Linked DNA regions of Homo sapiens. The protein of the gene in region 2 purifies or fractionates together with the protein of the main gene of each other region. This does not show direct contact. Each region holds a gene or a part of one and is shown on either strand. Other genes may lie near its edges. The genes, in order: IFT122, IARS2, GAK, ASPM, IL22RA2, GRSF1 and STAT2.

Region 1 (3,500 bases), on a different chromosome or scaffold from region 2:
CCCACCTGGCACAGGATGATGTGATTGGCACACACCACCAGGAGGTTGCACTCAAACTTCTTGATAATCTTCTCCTTTACCCGGTAATGCATGTCTGATAAGTCCTCTGAATACAACTCATAGATGAGGATTTTCTCTGGCAGTTGGATAGCCAATCGATTTCTGTAGATGGCAATCTTCTTGACAAGCTCTTTGCATTTAATCCGAACTGTCAAAGAAAAAAATATCTAGTTCTAGCAAGAGGTTGTTATGTAAGGTGCAAGGCAGAGAAATTAAAAGCCATCATTTACTTAGCGCTACTGGCAATTAAAGTGAGATACTCTCATTGAAAAATCTTTAGAGTATCTAATACATACAATCAACTCTGCTGAACCCTGGGATCCAAAGTCCTATAGGACACAATCTTCATGGTCCAAGGCTGACAACTGAGTATGGAAATAAACTACTCACTGTTACCATCACTTGCTGGATACAAATATAAACTCCTCTGCACAGCACTAGTGGCCCCCGGTGATCAGAAGCCTGCCTAAGTAACTGACCTCACCTCTGGCCGCTCCCTGCCCACCTCCTTGACAAACGGGGAAGACATGTAATTTCTGGTACACACCAGGCTCTACACTCCCACTACAGACCAGGTGGAGAAAATGTCCCTAAGGGGGACACTGTGAAGCTGCCCAAGGGGCTTTGCCCCAACCACCACAGCCAGAATCTTCAAAAAGATAGGGTCCCCCAGGGGGACCAAAGGACACTCATCTGAATCTACAAGACAACCCCCAACCTGGATCCCTTGCAAAGGCACCTAGCAGTGCACTAAGGCCAGCACATCCAGATATGAATACACCTGAAGTAAGTGGATTGAGTCTATTTAACCAGCACAGCAACTTAAGTGGACAGAGGGAGAGACTGCAGTCTTAGGGCTTAGAATGACTATGCGAGGCCGGGAACTCTGATCTTCTGACCTAGCCTGTGCCAATCCAATTCCACTGCTCATCTCTGGCAGAAGGACCCACCAGGAGGCAAGTGGAGACAGGGCTGAGGGAGAAGCACCCCAGAGTGACTCTGACCAGAAAGGATAAAGGTCCACGAAGACCCATGCAGGTCAACCACCTGGCTCCAACCTGTCATAAATCATCCTCCCTCACTAAGGAAATTCATGTACTCCTTGAAATTATGTGCAAAATTCTGAGTTGGTACATTTTTCAGAGAGGATTTATTGCTTTCATGAGATCCTCAAGGAGACTGGCATCCCTACTTCCCCCACCAAAAAAAAAAAAAAAAGAAAACAAGACACAGACCCAGTGGCTAACAGGTTTGCAAAACGCCAAAGAGAAACCTTTTCCTGTCATTTCAAGTGCCCTGTCACCAGCCCTTTCCACCTGCTTCCACCTGTCCCTCTTCCCAAGGTCTGGACCTGCCTCTTACCTTTCTGCTCAGTGATCAGGTGCTGCACAATGACGTCAGTCATGCTATCCCTGTAGGCATAGCGGTCCTTGTAAAGCCCATGGACTGTGCTGAAAATAAGCTGGTAGAAGGAAATGGTGCCGTCCTGGCAGCCGACCACCTGCGGGGTGAGAGAACTGTCAATTCCCAGCTCTCTGGAGAAAGTCTGCATTCCCCCATTTGTCAGACACAAACCCCAGTGATGTGACTCGAGACACGGCGGCTGCTCAGTGCCTCTTCAAGCCATGGCCCCACAGAACAAACTTTCTCTTCTTACCACATAGTTGGAATCCGGTTTCGCTTGACACGTCCACACCCAGGAGTTCTGCTCCCCAACAGTCCCAAGCCGCACTCCATCCTTGGTGAAAAGAGATACTTGCTTGTCTGAACCCCCCAGCAAAATGTACTCGCCTTTAGTAAAGTAGCTGATGCAGCAGGGGTCAAAGTTCAGTGCCCGATCCTTTCCAATCTGAGGAAAAAGAACACACAGCAAGGGAAAAACCATTTCCGAATCCATAACCATTGCAATACAATTAAGGGCTTTTTCTCGCCAACTTTAGAGGGAGTTGGGAAGACAGGGAGAGCTGGCCAGCCTTTTCTCCTGTGTCATCCCATGGTGAACACAGGCCTCTCTGCCTCTGCATCTCCCTACTCATCCTCTACACAGCCCAAACCTCAGCTCCTGGAGTCAGTGGCACCTCCCCTAGTCCCACCCAAGTGCTCCAGGAGTGCAGGAGTGTGTCAGGGCTCCTCCGCCAAGATGGAGACTGTGGGTGGTTTTGTTCCCAAAGGCCCCCCTCCCTCTGCAAATATAGTTCTTCCTATAGTTCAATGGGTTCCCTCAGCTTCTTTTCTCCGCCTTTTTAAAAAAGTATTTTATAAAGCTGAGTTTATTCAGTTTAAAGACTGTCCTTTATTCTGCAACTACACCCATACTACTTCTCTTCATTTTTTAATTCTTGTTTATTTCAAGATGGGGTCTCACTCTGTCACCCAGGCTGGAGTGCAGTGGTGCAATTACGGCTCACTGCAGCCTTCAACTCCTGGACTCAAGCGATCTTCCTGCCTCAGCCTCCTAAGTAGCTGGGACCATAGGTGAGTGCCACCATGCCTGGCAAAAAATTTTTTTTTTGAAAAAGGGTCTGACTCTGTTGCCCAGGCTGGAGTGCAGTGGCGCCATCTTGGCTTACTGCAACCTCCACTTCCCAGCTTCACGTGATCCTCCTACCTCAGCCTCCCAAGTAGCTGGGACTACAGATGTGTGAGAACACGCCTGGCTAATTTTTGTATTTTTTGCAGAGACGGTGTTTCTCCTTGTTGTCCCGGCTAGTCTCAAACTCCTGAGCTCAGATGATCCACCCACCTTGGCCTCCCAAAGTGCTGGGATTACAGGAGTGAGTCATAGCTCCTGGCCTATATTTTTTTATTTTTAAACTCTACGTTGAACCTTTTTTAGGAACTGCTACACTTTTCAAGTGAATGCACCACTTTATATTTGCATTAGCAGTGTATGAGGATTCCAATTTCTCCATTTTAGTGAGTGCGAATTATCTCATTGTGGTTTCAATTTGCATTTTCCTGATGGCTAATGATATGGAGCATCATTTCATGTGCTTATTGGCCACAGAGAAATGTCACACTCTGTGGCTTAGGCTGGAATGCAGTCGTATGATCATAACTCAATGCAACCTTGAACTTCTGGGCTCAATTCCTCTGCCTCAGCCCCTCACCACCCCCAGTAGCTGGGACTAGAGGCATATACCACCACACTCAGCTAATTAAAAATATATTTTTTTAGAGGTGGGGTCCCACTGTTACCCAGGTTGGTCCTGAACTCCTGTTCTCAAGTGATCTCCCTGTCTCTGCCTCCCAAAGCACTGGGATTACACGTGTGAACCACCATGCCCAGCCCTGTCTTTATAGCTCTTTATATATTCCAGATACAAGTCCTTTATCAGATATATGAGTTGTAAAACTTCTCTCATTCTGTGGGTTGTCTTTTCTCTTTCTTGATGGTGCTTCCTCAGCTTCTAGGATGCAGGTCAAACTCCCGAGCTCAG
Region 2 (3,500 bases):
CCAAATCCTGCAGTAAGTGTAGCATGTACTGGTCTATGACATACATATCGTTTACAGGGATGGAATCTGTTTCTGGGTTGAAATCAGCCACATTTCCCAAAAGAAAGCGAAGTGTATTCCTAAGCTATTCATAGGAAGAAAAAATATGCAGTTAAAAAAATCTAATGGTGCCTTCAATTTTCACTGAAAAGTTATTTTATTACTAACTCTTGTCATTTTCTTAGTGGGGTATTTTTATTATCATTCCAAATAAGACTACAAATGTAAAAAAATAAAAAACAAAAAGTACACAACAAACTCTTATTCCAATAGCCCAGTTATAGGAACAACCACTGGATTTTACGCCTAACGACTGAATTTTCATTATATTTCTTTATTACGTTGGGGCAAATCACCTTTCAGTAGCCCAGTTTATTCATGTGTGTGGGTCAGAATAATGTTATTTCACTTGCTTCACAATGAAATAAAGATACATGGAAAAATGTGAAAGGTTATTGAGTACATAAAAGTATACAAAATTAATATAATCTATACTATGCTATATTACATTTTATATATTAATAAAATATAAAGGATATTATATACAAATTATATAAAATTACTGGTATTACTACCAATGTTTTGAAACAAATAAATTTACACAGGAGTTTTTTGTTTTTTTTGAGACAAGGTCTTGCTCTGTCGCCAGGCTGGAGTCCAGTGGCGCGATCTCGGCTCACTGCAACCTCCGCCTCCTGCGTTCAAGTGATTCTCCTGCCTCAGCCTCCCGAACAGCTGGGACTACAGGTGCATGCCACCATGCCCAGCTAATTTTTGTATTTTTAGTAGAGACAGGGTTTCACTATGTTGGCCAGGCTAGTCTCGAACTCCTGACCTCGTGATCCACCTGCCTCTGCCTCCAAAAGTGCTGGGATTACAGGCATGAGCCACCATGCCTGGCCAACACAGGAGATTCTTAAAATCTCACAATAAATGAAGAACTCGTTTTCATTCAGTTTTTTTCAGTTCCAAACAAAATGTGTCTCATTTTTTAAAACAATGATTTGACAAACTTGTCCTTTAGAAATAGGAAGAATAATAGTTCTAACCTTGCTAATATCATCTCTGGCAGCATTGAGCACGGATGGGCCAATTGCAACTTCGGTGAAGACATTGGAATCAGCTACCCACCAGCGAAGGACATCAGCACCATACGGAGGCTCTTTGCTTTGATCCTTTTCATTGAGAAAAAAATATATAAACACAATGGCTTTCAATTCCAATTAGCCGAACAAATGTTTTAGGTAAAGCTCCTATTCAGATATTTTTGAGCACAATGTAAGTACAAACTATACTAGCACTGTAATGAAATGCGGGCTAACAATCTCAAATTAGACTGTATCTAAAAACAAAACTGGAAAAAGAAAGAGCGTGCTCTGCAATCTTGTTCAATGCACAAATGCTCATACCTAATCTCTTCCCTGGTCATGTCTGTTTCCTCTATTACAGCTGGTGGTTAGACACACAGCAGTGCCAGGGAGGTCTCTATAATAAGGGAGGGGAAGAGGAAGGACTGCTTTTCCTTTCACTATTTCCTAGCAACTCTGTACACAAAACAATGAACGGTTACAGGATGTTAGGCGGGCAGTAAAAAGCTACAGGAGTTAAAAAATAGAAAAAAACAGACAAATGATTTAATTCACAAAAGCAGCTCCAAAAACCCCCCCAAATTATCAGCAACCTCAGATTTGATGTACATTTAGGACCTGCTTTAAAGTGTATAATTTTCAACAATATAATAATGAAATGCGCATTTTGAAGTTGCAATCTCATTTTTCATCATTTCCATTTAACTACACAATCACACTTTACATATTCTTTTTTCACTTCAGACAGCAATGTGCCAACACTGTAACAAGGTTTGAGGGAGGCACACCTCACACAATAGTGCGAAAACCCAATCATCACGCTTACGAATCACAAAAGGATCTACACATTTTAAAGGCTCTCAGACAATTAAAAAAGAAACAGCGTGGTTTGGGACCTAACTGGAGAGTCAGGCCTGAAATAAGTTAAAAGGACCACAATCCCAGCCTCTGCCTTCTTCATTACAATCATGTGTTATTTGAGAGTATAAAAGATAGTTTTTATTTTTACATTGAAGTAACTATATTAAGGGCTTTGGCTGCCAATTTAAGATCCTTAAAACGAAAATAAAATACATTTTAGAGAATCACCTACTTGTCCTCCATTAACGACAACATCAGGATGAATGACATTCCCAAGAGACTTGGACATCTTTTCTCCCTTTTCTCCAAGGGTAAATCCATGAACAATCACTGTCCTAAAGGGACAAATCAGCTATTTTAATGATAAACACAATTATAATTATCTTTTTGAAGATTAGGTACAGCTTAAAAAGAGTATCTAAGTTTGACACAAAAATATGATTTTTCTTGACTGATTATGAATAAAACCTTTTCTTTTCTTTTCTTCTCTTTTTTTTTTTTTTTTTTTTGAGATGGAGTCTCACTCTTGTTGCCCAGGCTGCAGTGCAGTGGCATGATGTCGGCTCACTGCAACCTCTGCCTTCCAGGTTCAAGGGATTCTCCTACCTACGCCTGACCTCAGGGGATCCACCTAACTCGGCCTCCCAAAGTGCTGGAATTACAGGTATGAGCCACCCTGCCCGGCCGAAACCTTTCCTTAAAAGTCAAATTCGGCTGGGTGCAGTGGCTCACGCCTGTAATCCCAACACTCTGGGAGGCCAAGGCAGGCAGATCACTTGAGGCCAGGAGCTCGAGGCCAGCCTGGCCAACATGGTGAAACCCTGTCTCCACTAAAAATACAAAAATTAGCTGGGTATAGTGGTGTGTGCCAGTAGTCCCAGATACTTGGGAGGCTGAGGCATGAGAATCACTTGAACCCAAGAGGCGGAGATTGCAGTGAGCTGAGATCGTTCCACTGCACTCCAGCCTGGGAGACAGAGTAAGACTCCATCTCAAACAAAAAAAGTCATTCTTAGCTCATGTATCACAATAGTCAAACAGTTAACTCTCGACTTACACAAAGGAAAACTTTAGATATTTTCATCACTAAACAGATTATTTTCTGAGCTTCTGCTATGTACTGATTTTATCATTAAAACTAACCAGGTTAGAAAGAGCAAACTACAGAGACAGCAAGGAGATCAGTGGTTGCCAGGGGCCCTGGGGTGGGAGTGGAGATTAGTCACAAATGGGCATGAGAAAACTTTTTAGTGTGTTGGAAATGTTATAAAACCTCTTGTGGTGATAGCGGAAAAACTATATAACTCACTAAAAAAAAAAAAAAAAAAAAATTTTAAATGAAAAAATAAAACCAGGAAAAAGTATGTCTTAAAAAGAGCAGATTATCATCTCAAAATTATTTTCAAAAGACAATTTGAAAAAAATAGGATCTGCCCTTTTACTGGTCTTTAAAACGCATGTTAAGAAACAAAAACATGTAAAAGGGCCAGGCGTGGGGGCTCACGCCTGTAA
Region 3 (3,500 bases), on a different chromosome or scaffold from region 2:
CCAACCTGGGAAACATGGTGAAACCCCGTCTCTACTAAAAATACAAAAATCAGCGGCGCATGGTGGTGGGCGCCTGTAGTCCCAGCTACTCAGGAAACTGAGGCAAGAGAACTGCTTGAACCCAGGAGGCAGAGGTTGCAGTGAGCTGAGATTGCGCCACTGCACTCCAGTCTGGGTGACAGAGCGAGACTCCATCTCAAAAAAAAAAAAAAAAAAAAGGCAGCATCTGCAAACCAGCAAAAGAGGCCTCTCCTGGAATCAGCACTGACAGCATCTTGCTCTTGGCCTTCAAGCCTCCAGAACTGCGAGAGTGAATTTCTACTGCTCCCCACTCAGTCTGGAGTATTTTGTTATGGCAGCCTAACCAGGCTGATACGCTCCTACATTGCTGGTGGGAATGTATGGCCACTCAAGAAAACAATCTGGCAGTTTTCTAACAAACTAAACACATAATTACCACACATGAACCAGCAACTGCACTCTTAAACATTTATCCCAGAAATGAAAACGTATATTCACACAAAAACCTATACGCAAGTGTCACAGCAGCTTTATCTGTAGTAGCCAAAACAGGAAACAGCCCAGATGTCCTTCCACGGGTGGCTGGCTGGGCAAGCCGTGCACACTCACGCAGAGGAGTCTCACCACGGGAAACAAGCTACTGACACACAATTACCTGAAGAATTCTGCACTTCCCCTTACACTGCATCCTTCGAATGACAAAATCACAGACAGAGCAAAGACTAGAGGTTTCCAGAGGGTAAGGAAATGGCGTGGCTGAGAGGTGGCATGAGGGCTCCCTACGGGGATGGAGACTTCCACAGCCTCACCTGCACCAGGGTTAGCATCCCGACCGTCACCACTGGGGAAACCAGGCAAGGGTCTAAAATAGAAAAGATCTCCATCTTTTCTCACAGCCGCGTGGGAACCTACAATGAACTCAAAATAATACAGTTTATTTAAAAATAATAGTAACGTATAAGACATTAAAGAATGGCATGTCGGGTACCTCCAAGACCCTGTTATATACATTTTACAGCACACACTCTGCCAATTAAGGAACAGGCACAGGCCAGGCACAGTGGCTGACACCTGCAATCCCAGCACTTTGGGAGGCCGAGGTGGGAGAATCACTTGAGCCCAGGAGTTCTGAGAACAGCCTACAGGCAACATAACAAGACTCCATCTCTACCAGAAATAAATTAAAAATTAGCCAGGCGTGGTGGTGCGTGCCTGTGGTCCCAGCTACCTGGGAGGCTGAGGTGGGAGGATCGCTTGAGTCCGGGAGTTCAAGACTGTGGTGAGCTGTGATCATGCCACTGCACTCCAGCCTGGGCAACAAAGCAAGACCTCATCTCAAGGGCAGGGAGTGGAGGGGTGGGGAGTGGAGGCACAGAGACATCAAATGCTCAAGCCAGGTCAAATCTCAAGGCCCAGGTTCCCTGAGGCAGCCTGGCCTGGGACAGCAGAGTGACCACAGCTAAGGCTTGCCTTCTCTTTCTCACATAAATTATATAAATATATAAACATAAGACCTGTATCCAGAGTAAGCAGAAACTCCCTGCCCAATAAAAAATGGACAAAAAGGCCAGGCGCCGTGGCTCATGCCTGTAATCCCAGCACTTTGGGAGGCCAAGGCCGGCGGGTGACCTGAGGTCAGGAGTTTGAGACCAGCCTGACCAACATAGTGACACCCCATTTCTACTAAAAAATACAAAATTAGCTGGGCATGGTGGTGCATGCCTTTAATCCCAGCTAGTTGGGAGGCTGAGGCAGGAGAATTGTTTGAACCTGGGAGGTGGAGCTTGCCGTGAGCCAAGATGGAGCCACTGCACTCCAGCCTGGGCAAGACTCCCTCTCAAAAAAAAAAAAAAAAAAAAATTGCTGAACATCATCATCAGGGAAATTCCAATGAAATCACAATGAGATCGACACCACTGCACACTCACAAGAATGGATGTAATCAAAATGAGAGACCACAAGAAATGCTGGTGAGGAAGTGGAGAGCCAGGAACTCTCCACTGCAGCTGGTGGAAATGTAAAATGGTGCAGCTACCGTGGAAGGAGGTTTGGTTGTTTCATGTGAAGTTCAACCTAAATCCAACCTGTAAATCAGCAATCCTACTCCTTGGTATTTTTTACCCAAGACAAAGAAAAACACACGTCCACAAAAAGACTTGAAAAAAAATGTTCTCGGCACCTTTATTCATAACAGCGGATACGGTTTGGATCTTTATTCATAACAGCGGACACGGTTTGGATCTTTATTCATAACAGCACATACGGTTTGGATCTGCGTCCCCATGCAAATCTCATGTTCACTTGTGACCCTCAATGTTGGAGGAGGGGCCTGGTGGGAGGTGACCGGATTATGGGGCGGAGTTCCCCATGGCGTGGCTGCTCTCAGGATAGTGAGATCTGACTGGGCCATGGGTGTGGAGTTCCTCCCGGGGCTGCTCTCAGGATAGTGAGTGCTCTCCTGTGAGATCTGATTGGGTCGTGGGGGTGGAGTTCCCCCGGGGGGCTGCTCTCAGGATAGTGAGTGCTCTCCTGTGAGATCTGATTGGGTTGTGGTGGTGGAGTTCCCCCAGGGGCTGCTCTCAGGATAGTGAGTGCTCTCCTGTGAGATCTGATTGGGTCATGGGGGTGGAGTTCTGCCCGGGGGCTGCTCTCAGGAGGAGGTTGCCAGGATCTGAGATCACACCCCTGTACTACAGCCTGGGCAACACAACAAGACTCTATCTCAAAAAAATAAGAATAAAAAAATAACAGGCACAGGATATGAATGTGCAATGCCAGAAGGGGAGGCTGAGCAGCAAATAAGCATTACCAAACTCGCTACTCAGAAAGGCACAAATCAAAGCTTGACACTTTTTAAACCCATCAAAATGTCCAAATAAAACAAACCCCCAGGGGACACTCTGAGGACTTGGGACACTAGAGTCTGGTGCCCCCGAGCAGCCTGCAGGCCCCATGAGCAGAGCTGGGCAACCTTCCCCCACACAGCCCACCAGCGTCCATGCAAAGGGCTGAGGACACCTCTCACCAGGATGCGTGTAGGATGCACGGAGCACGCTGGGGACGGGACAGAGTGCCGGGGGACAGTGAGGTCAGTACAGGACCACTACAGGCAGATCTGAGTATCTTTTTTAATCAACTCGGCCTCTTTTAAGAAACAGACACTTTTCTAACGTAAAATACCACATACCAACATTTTCAATACACACATAATTCACAACACTACAGAATGAATCTGTGTCCCCTCCAAAATTCCTGTGTGAAATCCTAATACCCAAGGTGATGGTGTTAGGAGGTGGGGCCTCCTTGGGGGTGACTAGGCCATGAAGGTGGAGCCCTCAGGACTGGGATTACTGCCCCAGAGAGCACTCCCTCACCCCTTCTGCCCTGTGAGGACACAGCGAGAAGGTGCTGGACCTCACCAGACACCAGATCTGCCGGCGCCTTGCGCCTGGACTTCCAGCCTGCAGAGCCGTGAGGAA
Region 4 (3,500 bases), about 23 Mb from region 2:
TTCGTAAACAGAACTGGAGAAAAATTTTAAAAAATCTGAGCACTAGAGATTAAATTTTAGGGATCAACATAATACTAAGAGATAAAATGTGAGAATGGACAGGTTTTCTACTCTGTTCTTGATAATGTGGAAAAAGTACAATGAGTAGCTTGTTTTGTTGCCATGTTTCTTAGAAAATAGGACCAAACACCATTGAGAAAAATTCAGCATCTGTTACAGGAAAATTAGATACTGGTCCTTAATAGCTGATAGTAGCAACTGTATCTTTATATGCTTTTTAATTTTTATTTTTATGGATATATAATAGTTGTAAATATTTACAGAGTACATGTGATATTTTGATTCAAGCACACAATGAGTAATGATCAAATCAGGGTAAATGGGATATCCATCACCTCGAACATTTATCATTTCCTTCTATTAGGAAACTTCTAATTCTATTCCTCTAGTTATTTTGAAATATACAATAAATTATTGTTAACTATAGTTGCCCTATTGTGCTACTAAACAGTAAATCTTATTCCTTCTCACTGTATTTTTGTACCCATTAACCAGCCTGTCGTTATCCACCCCTCCCCTCTCCCTATCCTAGCCTCTGGTAACCAACATTCTACTTCTATCTTCATGCGATCAACTGTATATGTTAAGCCCTGCTTCTACCCATGGGCTTCATCCAAAAATTCCTCTCACACTAGTGTGCCTTCCTAAACCATCTTTAAAACCATCATTGATTCAATAATTCATCAACTCTGGGAGCTGAAGAAAAATTCTTATACTATGAACTTAAAAAAAGATGATCTGGTAACAGCTTCTGAAAATGTGTGTGTGAGAAATAAGCTAGGAATAGTGAAATACAATTAGCATAGACAGGTTGGTAATTAGGGTCTTCATCATTAATGACAAAGAGTATGAGGAATAATACAAAGTTCAAAGAAAAAAAGAATGAGTAAGAAAACAAATTTTGCCAGTAGTTAAGTCACCCAGCAAAATGGCCCAAAGCACTAATAAGAAAACCAAGTCTTAACTAAATGATTTTATTCACTTCCTACGTCTCTGTCCTTACTCTAATCCTTATGAACCTGAATTAATCAAGTATATAATATTTTTAGATTATATTAATTAAAGGCTATGCTCTATCTCAAAAAAGCAAGACAGTACGAGAGATGTATTTTGTTTCCTTAATAAAGAAAATATCAACAAAACCAACCATATAAATTAAGCATAACAAATATTTAAAATAAAAATCAATAAGCAGTGTTATTTTATGTAAAGACTTAGCTATCACACACAAATACTTTTACACTCTCCACAGAACTATGATACATTACCGTGTTCTCTCTAGTTTGGTATAGAAGCAACCTTGAATAATTTTAACAGCTTTTAATATAGCTAGATATTCTTTGTGTGCTCTCCAACATCTATACCAGGCTTGAATCTTGCAGGCAGCTTTCACTTTACATAAATATTTCTTGGCTCTATATCTCCTCCACATAGCCTATTAAATACATAAATATAACAAGTATGCAATGAGTTGTCTCTTTTTTTTTGTAAATAAGACAAATCAGTATAAAGACAGTTAAAATAAGGTTAGTGCAGACAAAAATAAATTGCATAGTCATATCATGACTCTTTTAGACTTTGACATGTAATGAGTCTTCTGAGAACAGTGGTGCTTACTATAGTGAACACGTATTATGTGCTTTATCACACATACCTTATGGCTGGCTGCCAGCCCAGCCTAACAAAACCCTAACCAGTATTTATAAATTGTAAGACACACATGTCTGAAAAGCCCCACATTATGTAAATTATCCTCATCACCTCAATCCATTTGGAAGAAAAGAAAATGAACACATTGACCTACTGCAGGTTCTGGGGAGAAAGAGGAATTCTTCCCAATCCATATTCACTTTGGGTTCTGTGTTCAGCCTGCAGGAGAATCCTGAGAGCTCCTGTGATAGGACTGTCAGACTTTCTGATTTTGACAACCTTCTGGAAGACTAAAGGTTTACATGACAGCTACAACTTATTGAACTAAGCACTAAGAAGATTAGTCCTTAATAATCACATGGGTAGATAATACTATTATCTCTAATTTAGAGATGAGGAAATCAAGGCCTAGAGAAATTGAGTAACTTGTTGATGTCACACAGGTTAATAAGTGGCAGAGTTGTCTTACTTAATATTTATAAATATCTTATAAAATGGTTAAGATCTCTGTTTTATAAAAAAGGAAAAAAATCCAAAATTGAAATTAAGAAGGACTTGTTAGCATATAGCTGTTAAGTGACAGAGTCAAGATTTGAACCCAAGTCTATTTGACTCCAACATCCCTACAGGAAGAGGAATTAAAAGAAATTAAAGACTGTGTAAGCAAAAACTCAGTTGTATGTAAGAAAACCCAATTCCCCTTGGGAAGAGAAAGGGCTGGAGTCCTTTAAAATTAACTGTGTTTTTCTCTCTGTGGCTAGTGAGCCTTATCTCTCCCTTTCCCAGGCATTGTGAAGACTGTTTCTCTAGCTGTGCAGCTGCAAGGACACTAGACAGATAATCTCAAGTTGTAAAACATGTTGTTCCTTAAAAAGTAAGAAATAATGTAATGCATCTCTTACTTGAATAACTGTCTTTGTTTCTCTCTTCTGTAATACGCTTCCCCCTGCACAGATCTCCCCATGCCCCACGAAATGCTTAAAAGGTAGCTTGACTCTTTGTTCAGGGCTCAGTCCTCTTTGGATGTTAATCCGACTGGGTCGGTGCACATAAATAATTAAATAATTCCTCCTCAAATCCCTCGGTCTCTCTGATTCCTTAATTATCCCGCAGCACAACAAATACTATAGGCACAACGTATATTTAGATTAGGTTCTAAATTCAGTTGATAATGCAATAATTATATATGGCCAAAATTACTCTGAGATGACCTTAACTCATTCAGACTATATTGTATACGGTTTTTATGTAAATCTGCATACATTATTTATGTATATCCCCAATACCTGCCACCTCAGTCTTAATCAGTGGTAGAAGAATGGTCTCAGAACTGTTTGTTTCAATTGGCCATTTAACTGTAACAGTAAAAGACTGGTTAATGGTAACACTGCATCATAAAACCTTCAGGAGGAAAGGAGAATGTTTTGTGGACCATTTTGGTGTTTTTGTTTTTGTTTTGCTTGTGGCAGTTATAAGTTACTAGTTTTTAAAATCAGTACTTTTTAATGAAAACAAATTGACCGAAAATCTGTCACAGAATTTTGAGACCCATTAAAACAAAGTTTTAATGAGAAAATTATATATATGTATAGATATACGTGTGTGTATATATATATTTACAAATATATATATATATACACACACACACATCACACCTGAAGAACATCAAAATTTACAGACATTGACAAGAGAAGCCAACATAGCGTTAAGAGGGAAAGAAGACAGCTAAGAGATTATGGTATCAAGAAACCAAGGGTTGAGAGAAGAAACAAAGTGTGCTTAAATCCCAA
Region 5 (3,955 bases), on a different chromosome or scaffold from region 2:
ATGTGTTCTCATACAAGGAACAATCGATAAACTAGAAATCTTAGAAGCCTTCCTGAAAAAGGATTAATCAGAAGTCAACATGGCAGATTAGCATCTAAAAATGAAGTTGCTTCAGCCTCCGCAAGTCATAAAGGTTTTTTTGTTGTTGTTAAAAAGAGAGGCTCTTTAGATCAAAAGGGGAAATGTATACTGGTTTCTATTTTCTCTTGTATAGTCTCTTTCAAGTTCTTGGTAGAATAGCTCCTTTAGTAAGGAATAATGATGGCTGCTAAGCAGTATCCATCCATGCAGCTATCCAATAACATTTCACAAATATTTGCTGTCCTACCATAAACTAGGAATTAGTCTCAGCAGCAAGGATGCAGCAGCAGATAAGAGAGACATTGCCCCTGCCTTCCTTAAGCTTGCTTCTCAAGGGAAAAGTAGAGAATAAGGAGCTACAGCAGGGTTACAACTTCTATTCATCTAACCTTCTCTGTCTTTTTCTTCTCCTTCTTAAATGGGAGATGAAAAGTTTCAGAAGCCGGCTTGCAAAGCCACTTTGCCTCCCACCCTCCATCACAACCATTAACCAAGACTAGAATGTAGGAGGGGAAGCAGGTAAAATGAAAGTGCTAAAAGGAGAGGGTTGGGTGCTGCTGATGTGGAGGAGGCAGAGTCTTCAAAGAGAAAGGGAAGAATGGCCTTCTGCATACAGACAGGAGCAGAGGAGTTGTTCTCAAGTGTAGACCCTCCATCCCAACCCCATGACCCAGCACCTGTGAACATTTCTAGACACTCGGGTGCCTGAGACTGTGAGGCCTTGGGTGGAGCTGGGGCCACGCAGGGAAAACCTTATTCCTGAGCAAAGGGTCTTAGAAGAGAGCTTATCAGAAATTTCCTCAGAAACCAGATCCCAGTGGACCAGGCCACTATCAATTTTCATTTAACAAATTTCAGTTATTGGAGGGCAGTTGCGCTGCATGCTTTCTGAGGCCAGCCCTATGTGGAAAGGTTTGTGTGGATAACATCAGGTTTCCCAGTGCCTCTGTTCTACGGCAGTCTTCTGAATCCAGGCTTGTATCTCCTCCAGCTGAAGTTTTTGGTGCTTATAAGGTAGCTTCTGCTTTGAAAGAAGAAACATGCAGCACGTTTTATGTTCCCTTTTCACCTCTTCATGCTCCTTAGCTTGCAACCTTCTCAGCATTGTTATTCACTTCCCTGCTAATGTTTACCACTTCACATTTACTTTGGTATTTAAATGGGGGATGATAATGTGGGTTTGCACTATTGATGTTCAATGGCTTCAATACCAATAGATCTCATTTTGAAGCCACCAAATTGCTCCAAGTTCCAGCTAAGAATAAAAGGAAAATATTTAAATTCGAGGTTTTATGATGAGAGCAGCAGAGAACGAAATTGAGGTTTCCACTGGGTTGCTGACTTTGTCAAACAAATGAGGGGAAATTAGGCGGAGTGGGATAAGCAAAACATATTTAAGAACTGAATTCTCCCCAAAACGTGAGCTTTGGTGCTCTATTAAATTTCACAAACCAGACCAGTTCTGTCACTGTTCAATTAGCTCTAGTTGTGTAATAGAACCTGCATAAAAGCCAACACTGTCAACAAGGCCTCAAGGTAGATGAAAAGATAAAATTAAATTCTAATTTCCCATCAATCTGGAAGCAGAAGAATTTGTACAGAATTGTTTCAAATGAAATGCTGTTTTGTTTGGGAAGTAAGAAAGTTTTAGTCACTAGGGGATCTCCGCTCTGCCTCCTTTCAGGCATGAAATGCTGGCTTCATTCCCTGCCCTCCCCCGACCTCGGCCCCACTCCGCAGCAGGGAGAGTCCACCTTGACGGTGACAACGGGTATTTCCATCATCGTGTTGACTCTGGAGAGAACTTGCTTAAGCCCCTGTCTTGAACAGATTTGATTCTCTTCTTCCTTTCTTCTTGTGGCTTCCAGCAGACCAACCATTTATCTAATTAAGGAATCATTTTTCATTGTTTTTAGGTGTGATGTGGAATTTTGGTTATTATTTTTATTTTTTTTTAGAGCTACCTATTATAGTACTACAGATGAAATGGTGTCATGTCTGGGATTTGCTTCAAAATAATACAAAGGCCTGGGAAAGGGGGTTACCATCCATGAGCTGATAACTGTTGAAATTGGGTGTCAGGTTTATTATACTCTACTTTTGTATGTACTTAAAATTGTTCATAACAAAGAAAAAAGATTTTTAAAGTTTATCTACAAGATGTGGCCAGACACGGTGGCTCACACCTGTAATCTCAGCACTTTGGAAGGCGGAGGTGGGTGGATCATTTGAGGTGTGGAGTTCCAGACCAGCCTGGCCAACATGGTGCAACCCCGTCTGTACTAAAAATACAAAAATTAGCCAGGCGTGACGGTGTGTGCCTGTAATCCCAGCTACTCAGTGGGGCTGAGGCAGGAGAATTGCTTGAGTCAAGGAGGTGAGGTTTGCAGTGAGCCGAGATCGCGCCACTGCGCTCCAGTCTGGGCAGCGATAAAGCGAGAGTCCATCTCAAAAAAATAAATAAATAAATAAATAAAGTTTACTTACCAGATGCTGTCTTCCTTTTGGTAATTTTAATGCCATTTTAGTGTCAATAATAAGATCTAATAATTATGGGACGCCATGTTATGTTTTTCCCATATTTTGTCTTTGTTAATCCTCTTATGAAGTCTAGGAGATTGGTATTATTATTCATTTGATGTTACAGATGAAGAAACTGAGACATAGATAGAGAGGTGGAGAGAACTTGACCAGGGCTCTATAGCGAGTAGTGGTAAAGTGAGGGCTGAAATCAGATCTGGTTAGCCTCAGGGCCTGAGGAGTATTATGAAACTCCTCTTGTGTTATTCTTTGCTTGTAATAGACATTCCATAAAGGGATAGAATGATGTCAAAGAACATTTGTCCATTGGCTTCTCGAATCGTTTATTCAGTCAAACAAATGTTTATTGAGCAACTGTTATATGCCAGGCACTGTGTTAGACATCGGGGATGCAGAAATGAACAAGACTACAGAGCCAGCCCTCAGGGAACCAACAGCATTTTCTTCAACCAGGTCTTGGTAGCAAAGGGCTAAGTGTTTCTTATTGTTTTTCAGAGAAGTGTTTAAAAACTGGTGTTCAGTATGACTTTGGTGCTGTCCATTGAAGGGAAGTCAGAGCAACTGTGTTTCTGCTAGGCCCTTTCCTTCATCCTATGATTTGGTGGGCAGCTGAGCATCTTTTAAAAGTTTCATCATGAATGATAATCTGAACACCACCCTTCTCCCTCTCTGGAAAACTATAGAGCTGTAGAGCCAACAACAGGGAAACAACTTGTTCTTTCTTATTTGCTGGGACATTAATAGCTCCACCGAGTAATATTCATGTCCTTTAAGCAGTTCGGCATTCTGGAAATAATTGGCATGCAAAAATTCAAAATGGTTTGTGAACTTGAATTCAGAAAAGAAAAAGAAACATTGTTATTCAAACACAGGTGATAAGCACAATGACTAATCTGAGTTTTTGGACTGTGATCACTAATATATTATTTAAAATCTCCACTCATAGGACATAGGGCTTAATGAGGTTAACCTTTCCTGCTCTTCACTCTTATTTTTCTGGATAAAAGATGCTATTGATTTTGCTTTGATTATTCTTTAAAAAATTTTTTAAAATTTATTTCTGAAAACCAAAACATAAAGGAGTGGTAACATTTAAAAAATATGTATTTTTTTTATTTCAGTAGCTGTGCAATAGTGCAAGTGGTTTTTGGTTACCTGGATGGATTGCACAGTGGTGAAGTCTGAGATATTATTGCATCTCTTACCCGAGTAATGTACATTGTACCCAATATGTAGCTTTGATTATTCTTCACCCAAGGTCACCTTGAAACCCCTACCAGATATCATCAATCATTATGCCCATGCACCAGTATGTTTGTATGTATTGTTTGAT
Region 6 (3,500 bases), on a different chromosome or scaffold from region 2:
CATACATAGAACACTGCTCAGCCATAAAAAGGAACAAAGCTTAAACACACTGATGAACATACAAACATGCTGAGTAAAAGGAACTTACAGAATACATACTGCATAAGTGAGTCCGTTATATGAAGTTCTAGAATAGGCAAAATTAATCTACAGTGAACAAAATCCTAACAGTAGCTGACTGCCAGGGGAGGGAAGAAGGGACAGGAGAGAGAGGTGCAGGAATTGACTAGGTGAAAAAATTCAGATGTAATACAGATGTTCCAGACATAGGGGTTTGAGTTACATGCTTTTACATCAAAACTCATCAAATGAGTCTGGGTATGGTGGCTCACACCTGTAATCCCAGCTACTCGGGAGGCTGAGGCAGGAGACTCCCTTGAACCCAGGAGGTGGAGGTTGCAGTGAGCCAAGACCAGGCCACTGCACTCTAGCCTGGGCGATACAAGACTCCATCTCAAAAAAAAAAAAAAAAAAAGAAAAAACCTCATCAAATGATACACTTAACATTTATTCACCTTACTGCAAATCTCCCTCAAAAAAACTCCAATGACGGCTGGGTGTGGTGGCTGATGCCTGTAATCCCAGCACTTTGGGAGGCCGAGGCAGGCAAATGACTGGAGGCCAGGAGTTCCAGACCAGCCTGGCCAACATGATGAAACCCCATCTCTACTAAAAATACAAAAATTAGTCAGGCGTGGTGGTGCACATCTGTAATCCCAGCTACTCGGGAATCTGAGGCATGAGAATTGCTTGAAACTGGGAGGTGGAGGCTGTAATGAGCTGGGATCACGTCACTATAACTCCAGCCTGGGTGACAGAGCGACTGTCTCAAACACAAAAAACAAAAACAAAAACAAATTCCCATGACATGTATGCTGAAAGGATTAAAAGTGAAAAATGTCTACAACTTACTTGGACATGCATATAGAAAAAAAGATGAGACTGCAGGAGGCAGGCTATGGGATAAAGCATGGCAAAATGCTGCTTGTACAATCTAAGGGATGGGTATTGGCATCACCAAGATTTTATATACTGACAGAAAATGATCTTTAGGGTGTTTAGGTGGGAGAAAAGCCAAAATACAAAATAGCATGTACAGTATAATTTATATTTTTAAAAGAAATGACAACACCCACTAACACTTGCTTATAAATAAAGTAAAAGTCACTGCAAGCTTACACTAGAAACTGATAACAGGGCTGTGCGAGAATAGAAACTAAACAGCTGAATTACAGGAGGGGAAGGAGAATCTTCACTACCGTTTGTATCTCTTCAAGTTTATTTCCTTCAAAAAATAAAATATAAACAACTTTAAAATGAGCCTGCTTTTTTTTTTTCTGAGACAGGGTCTCACTCTGTCACTCAGGCTGGAGTGCAGCAACAGTCATGGCTCACTGCAGGCTTGACTTCCCAGGCTCAAGCAGTCCTCCCACTTCAGCCTCACAAAGTGCGGGGATTACAGATGTCAGCCACCACACCTAGCCTATTCTTGATTTTCATATAATCAGGCTTAAGACAGATTAAACCTTCCTTCCTATACTTCCTTTCTAAAAATAAGAAAACCACTAGAACTAAAATTCTGGACAGAAAATCCAGACACCTCACCAATGATGATATAAGGATGGCAGATTAAGTATATGAAAAGGTGCTCCACATCACTATGGGATTGGGAATTAAAACGATGAGACCACTATTCACCCATTAGCTAAAATGCAAGAGTGACATCACCAAATACTAATGAGGGTGAGGAGCTACAGGAACTCTTATTCATTGTCAATGGGAATTCAAAATAGTCATGTTGGAACAGTTTGGCAGTTTCTTCCAAAACTAAACATACTCTTAACTTACAATCCAGCAACCTGGTTCCTTGGTATTTACCCAAAGGAGCTGAAAACGAGTCTACACAAAAACCTGCACATAAATGTTTATAGCAGCTTTATTCCCTTCCTACAAACTTCAGATTCTCTTCTAATTTGCTGAACTTGGGGAGTGGGAGGGTAATGTATTTCTAATGCGATAGCGCAATTTGGATTGGAACTCTACTGCTGACATACATACCATTCTCCTCTATACTATAGGTCCTACCAATTCAATGTGAGTGTCTTCCGATAATTTAGGGGAAACTCTCAGAACAATGGAGTTTTTTGTATTTTGGTTTTTTTGATTTTGACAGAGTCTCACTCTGTTGCCCAGGCTGGAGTGCAATGGTGTGATCTTGGCTCGCTACAACCTCTGCCTCCCAGGTTCAAGCGATTCTCCTGCCTTGGCCTCCCAAGTAACTGGGATTACAGGCGTGTGCCACACCTGGCTAATTTTTGCATTTTCAGTAGAGCCGGAGTTTCACTAAGTTGGCCAGGCTAATCTTGAACTCCTGACCTCAAGTGACCCACCATGGAGGGTTTTAAATTCTGAAACAAACAGGATGTAACCCCAAAAAATAACTTTCCAAATGAGAACTGAGTAAGGGCTGTTCAGGGCAGAGGACATTAACAAGGCATGTTGATTAATAAGCAGATTCATGGCACACAATGTTGCCTTCAAACTGGGTTCCTTATGCTTCCCCCTTCAAGTAACACAGAAGTAGTGAGAATTTGGAGCCTTCCTCCCAGGGAAGATTCGGTCCCCCTTCCCACATGACAGAAGCTTAAGTTACCCACGCATAAAGGGACACATACTCTATTTCTGCTTCATTGCCTGGTGTCAATATTTAGATGAGACCACAATATTCAGATGAGACCACAATATTCAGCAATCAGCTCCCTGGTATTTACATACTGCTTCTCAGAGTTCTCCCTTGCACTCCGTAAGCAGCAGCTAGGCTAAAGCAGGATATGAGCACCCTGACCATATGCCCCACTCCCACTATTCTTCCTGATGGCTTTACCACAAAGGAAGTTATAGACACAAGGAACCCAAACAGAAGGAAATTCACCATCACTGCTTCCTTCAATAGCAAAGAGTGATGCAAAACAGTCTTCTCAAATGTGGGGAGACGGTACCGTCTTCCACTTGCATGGAAATAAGATTACTTTTACTGTATTATGTGCTTCTCTTCCTTTCCCATAACTACATCCACCTTAGCAATCACTTACGTACTAGCCTAGATCATGAACAAAAACAAAAGGGAGCATTCAAATACATAAAATGATTTCCCAATAATGGCCACATTTTGTACAGAAAACTCAGCCTGTAGCGTGCCAAGAAGATATATCCTTTCAACCTTACCCATCCATCATATAGCATTTTAATGCTTTGCTTGCATTCTTTTTCCAGAGATGTGCAAATAAAACTCATTAGCTTAAATCAATTGCAGATGAATTCCTCACAGTAGGCCCCACAGATCTTTTCCACAGCAAATCAGATACCAAATGTGAAAGAGCAACAAAGATCACATTCTAATAGTTCGTACAACTACAGATACCAGTTCTCATAGCTTGGCATATTCAACCATATATGAAAACGCATTTCCATCTAGGCAGTACTACTGATGATGTTAAGCT
Region 7 (3,500 bases), on a different chromosome or scaffold from region 2:
TAAATAGCTGAAAATAGGAGTTCATTAATTAAATTATGTTACCACCATATAGGGGACTGTTGTGTGGACATAAGAAATAACATGGATAAATATAATATACTGTTGGCCGGGCATGGTGGCTCACGCCTGTAATCCCAGCACTTTGGGAGCCCAAGTTGGGTGGATCACCTGAAGTCAGGAGTTTGAGACCAGCCTGGCCAACATGGAGAAACATCGTCTCTACTAAAAATACAAAAAAACTAGCCAGGCATGGTGGTGTGTGCCTGTAATCCCAGCAACTCGGGAGGCTGAGACAGGAGAATTGCTTGAACCTGGGAGTTGGAAGTTGCAGTGAGCTGAGATCGTGCCACTGCGCTCCAGCCTGGGCAACAGAGAGAGACTCCGTCTCAAAAAAAAAAAAAAAAAAAAAATATATATATATATATATATATATAAAAAATACTGTTAAGCTTAAAAAAAACCCCATGGATTTCAAAATAGTATGGACAATATGATTCCATTTTTGTTTAATAAGCTAGGTAATAGGTAATTTTCTCTTCCTCCTTCCTTCCTTCCTTTCTTGTCATTGTATTCGTTGCAGTAAAAAAAAAAATACATATATATATATTTCTGGGTGATTAAAAAAGAAGGAAAAACCAGATTGTGGGTTAATTCATTCCTTTCCCTGAAGGAGACTGGGCTCTGGGCTCCCTGCGTGGTGAGGATGAGGAGCAGAATAGAGCTGCAGTCAGCAGGGAGCAGGGCTCATTCTGGGGAGCAGAGACAAATAGAGAACAGTATCTCTTGCTATATGCAGGGCACTGCAACTTACAAATCACAGCGCATGGCGAGGACGAGGGTTGGGGTGGTACCTCTCACCATGTCTCCAGCTGTTCCAACCCGTGGTCAATGGGAGCTCTGATGCAGGCTTTTTGCTGCTGGGCCTTCCACTCCTCCAACTTTGGCAGCAGTAGCTCGATTAGGGTAGTTAATCGGCCTAGCAGTGCTTTGGAGGCATCCAGCACCTCCTGGGAAAGAGATAATGTGAGTGTTGAGCATCTCTCCCTTTCACCCTCCACCACCCAACTGGGGATGAAGAAACAAAGAAGCCAGCGCTAGAGGACCAGGGTCCCCACATCCCTCATTTTTCCAGGTCCTTGTTGCCCACATGTTCTGTCCTCTGTCTCCCACCTTTCTCCTTTTGTCCAGTTCATTGAGAGTTTCCTGCAGAATCTTCTGCTCTTTGGTCTGATGGGGGTCCAGAGAGGGTGTCTTCCCTGGATGGTGGGAACAGGAGTCAGTCCAGGGGTTCTTTCCTCTCCTTCCTGACTGGGGTCTCAGTCAGAGTCAGGAAGGAGGAATTTTGTGGAGGAAGAAAGGGAAACCAAGCAAAGCACAGGCACCTGTGGGACCCTCAGGCAAATTCTGAATGGTCATGCTTGGACCAGACACCCCCTCAAATAAAACACTGTTAGTTTTCCATGCATTTCCTCAACATTTACTGTCTCTCAGCTGCACCTCCAGCTCAGCCTCCACAAAGCACTTCCAGCTTTGCACGGCAGCAGGACTGTAGTCAGTGGGGTGTGTCTGACAGTGACTACTGCTCATCGGAGCTTTCTCCTGTTCACTTCCAGCTCCGGCTTCTCAGCAGGCACTTATCTTTCTCCAGCCCCTCAATGTGCTTCCTACCTTTGGCCTGGATCTTATATCGGAAGCAGAAGACATCCTGCTGGTCTTTCAGTTGGCTGATGGATTTTACCAGCTTCTGCAGAGGGGAGAGGACCCCGATGAGGCTGCTTCTCAGGGAGGTGTTAGGCTGAACGCTGTCAACCCTAACTCCTACCACATCTACTAACCTCCATCATAGCCCTTAAATCCAGGATCCGGGATTCAATCTCATGTTGCTGGCTCTCCACAGGTGTTTCGAGAACTGGCTCTCCTTGTTCCTGAAAAAAGAGGCTCTGAGCACGTTTTAACTCTGGCCTTTCATGCCTTAAGTTCAGGCCTGAAATTATACCACAGGATGTCGGGGGGATCCTGTTCTGAGACAACTCCCTGAGTCCTTTCCATGGTTCCTCTCTACTTCAGGAGTTTCCAACATTACCACTGAATTGTCCTCACCAATTGGGCCCTCTGAGCCTGGATCAAAATTCTTTTTTCTTCCAGAAGGAGGTTAAAGATCATCTCAGCCAACTGGGTAGGATCCTGGGAAAAGGGCTAGAATAGGTAAACAGAAAGGATTGATCCAATTCAACCACTCTCAATGACCTATTGCCCTAGACCCTCCCCACCAATGTCCACAGTATTTCCTCCTCCTTCGGGGTTCTTAGCCCTTTGTCTTTTCACCATAGCATCCTCCCAACAGTGTCACGTATATGCAACCCTTCTCTCTGCTAGTGATTCCCCAAGTCCAGACTCTGTCCTCCTTTCCCCACATTTGTTCCCGTCTCCCTTTCCACCTCCAGGTACTATTCTATTCTCCAAACCTTACTCCTCTATGCTCAGCTCCCAGTGCTACCCCATCACTCCCAACCGTTCCAAGTACCTGAATGTCCCGGCAGAATTTCCGCAAATTGTGCTGCAGCAACAAGGACTCTGGGTCCTGGCTGCAACGGCCACACTCATAGTTCAGCTGATCCAAGAAGTGGAAGAATAGCATGGTAGCCTTGGAATCATCACTCCCAAGTGCAGCTTCCTGCCTGGGCACCAGGAATAAGAAGTATTAGTGTCTCTGCAGTGTTACTGTAGTCCTGAGGCTTTCCAACCCCTTCCTGCCATTAATGATTCCAGGATCCCGGGGGCCCAGAAGTAAGGAACCACCTTTTTCATTCCCCCAACTTCCTGAAGGCCTCACCAGTTCTGGTCTTCAATCCAGACAGCCAAGTACTGTCGAATGTCCACAGGCAGGAGGCTGTGCGAGTAAAGCTGGTGCAGCTGATCCTGAAAGGGGCTGTCAAGATTCTGCAGCATTTCCCACTGCGCCATTTGGGCTCTGCGTCAGAAGGATGAGGGTTCCCAATTGGATATTTTGCTGGACTAAATCATCCATAGTTTCATGATTGTTCATTATTACTAATTTAAAATGTTTAAATTATACAAGTAATAAAAATACAGAAAACATTAAAATATATGTTGATCCTACTGCTAATCTTGGTTCTTTCCCCTCCTCTCCAGAAGTAACCACTGCTATCAGTTTGGTGCATATTCTTCCAGGGAGTGCTACCAGTTGAGTATCTGCTATTCCAAGCATTTTGGATTTCAGATTTGTCCAGATTTTGGAATATCTGCATTACTTACCAGTCGAGCATCCCTAATCCAAAACTCTGAAATCTGAAATGGTCCAAAATCTAACTTTTTGAGCACCCACATGACACTCAAAGGAAATGCTCACTGGAGCATTTTGGAGCCAAATTTTTCAGATTAGGAATGCCTAATCTGTATTTTTTTTTTTTTTTTTTTTTTTTTTTTAAGATGGACTCTCACTCTTTTGCCTGGGCCGGAGTGAAGTGGCATGATCTTGG

What was found.
Region 1: the proteins of IARS2 (region 2) and IFT122 purify together in Homo sapiens (affinity purification with mass spectrometry; one large-scale study listed by BioGRID and IntAct). This does not show direct contact.
Region 3: the proteins of IARS2 (region 2) and GAK purify together in Homo sapiens (affinity purification with mass spectrometry; 2 studies listed by BioGRID and IntAct, with this or other methods). This does not show direct contact.
Region 4: the proteins of IARS2 (region 2) and ASPM purify together in Homo sapiens (affinity purification with mass spectrometry; 2 studies listed by BioGRID and IntAct, with this or other methods). This does not show direct contact.
Region 5: the proteins of IARS2 (region 2) and IL22RA2 purify together in Homo sapiens (co-immunoprecipitation; one large-scale study listed by IntAct). This does not show direct contact.
Region 6: the proteins of IARS2 (region 2) and GRSF1 fractionate together in Homo sapiens (co-fractionation; one large-scale study listed by BioGRID). This does not show direct contact.
Region 7: the proteins of IARS2 (region 2) and STAT2 purify together in Homo sapiens (affinity purification with mass spectrometry; 2 studies listed by BioGRID and IntAct, with this or other methods). This does not show direct contact.

Annotation. Positions count from the first base shown.
Region 1 is NC_000003.12:129,474,724-129,478,223, reverse strand, and holds part of IFT122 (intraflagellar transport protein 122 homolog), read right to left. Parts: intron 1,910-3,500; coding exon 1,718-1,909; intron 1,562-1,717; coding exon 1,423-1,561; intron 209-1,422; coding exon 6-208; intron 1-5. UniProt on the Homo sapiens protein: As a component of the IFT complex A (IFT-A), a complex required for retrograde ciliary transport and entry into cilia of G protein-coupled receptors (GPCRs), it is required in ciliogenesis and ciliary protein trafficking.
Region 2 is NC_000001.11:220,135,632-220,139,131, reverse strand, and holds part of IARS2 (isoleucine--tRNA ligase, mitochondrial precursor), read right to left. Parts: intron 2,324-3,500; coding exon 2,221-2,323; intron 1,969-2,220; exon of another isoform or gene 1,866-1,968; intron 1,215-1,865; coding exon 1,089-1,214; intron 125-1,088; coding exon 1-124.
Region 3 is NC_000004.12:922,317-925,816, forward strand, and holds part of GAK (cyclin-G-associated kinase), read right to left. Parts: intron 1-3,500. UniProt on the Homo sapiens protein: Associates with cyclin G and CDK5. Seems to act as an auxilin homolog that is involved in the uncoating of clathrin-coated vesicles by Hsc70 in non-neuronal cells. Expression oscillates slightly during the cell cycle, peaking at G1.
Region 4 is NC_000001.11:197,094,670-197,098,169, forward strand, and holds part of ASPM (abnormal spindle-like microcephaly-associated protein), read right to left. Parts: intron 1,496-3,500; coding exon 1,329-1,495; intron 1-1,328. UniProt on the Homo sapiens protein: Involved in mitotic spindle regulation and coordination of mitotic processes.
Region 5 is NC_000006.12:137,170,845-137,174,799, forward strand, and holds the start of IL22RA2 (interleukin-22 receptor subunit alpha-2 isoform 1 precursor), read right to left. Parts: upstream 2,801-3,955; 5' UTR 2,569-2,800; intron 1-2,568. UniProt on the Homo sapiens protein: Isoform 2 is a receptor for IL22. Binds to IL22, prevents interaction with the functional IL-22R complex and blocks the activity of IL22 (in vitro). May play an important role as an IL22 antagonist in the regulation of inflammatory responses.
Region 6 is NC_000004.12:70,815,891-70,819,390, forward strand, and holds part of GRSF1 (G-rich sequence factor 1), read right to left. Parts: 3' UTR 1-3,500. UniProt on the Homo sapiens protein: Regulator of post-transcriptional mitochondrial gene expression, required for assembly of the mitochondrial ribosome and for recruitment of mRNA and lncRNA. Binds RNAs containing the 14 base G-rich element.
Region 7 is NC_000012.12:56,353,608-56,357,107, forward strand, and holds part of STAT2 (signal transducer and activator of transcription 2), read right to left. Parts: intron 2,972-3,500; 5' UTR 2,965-2,971; coding exon 2,834-2,964; intron 2,679-2,833; coding exon 2,525-2,678; intron 2,197-2,524; coding exon 2,101-2,196; intron 1,926-2,100; coding exon 1,836-1,925; intron 1,745-1,835; coding exon 1,669-1,744; intron 1,257-1,668; coding exon 1,171-1,256; intron 1,008-1,170; coding exon 859-1,007; intron 1-858. UniProt on the Homo sapiens protein: Signal transducer and activator of transcription that mediates signaling by type I interferons (IFN-alpha and IFN-beta).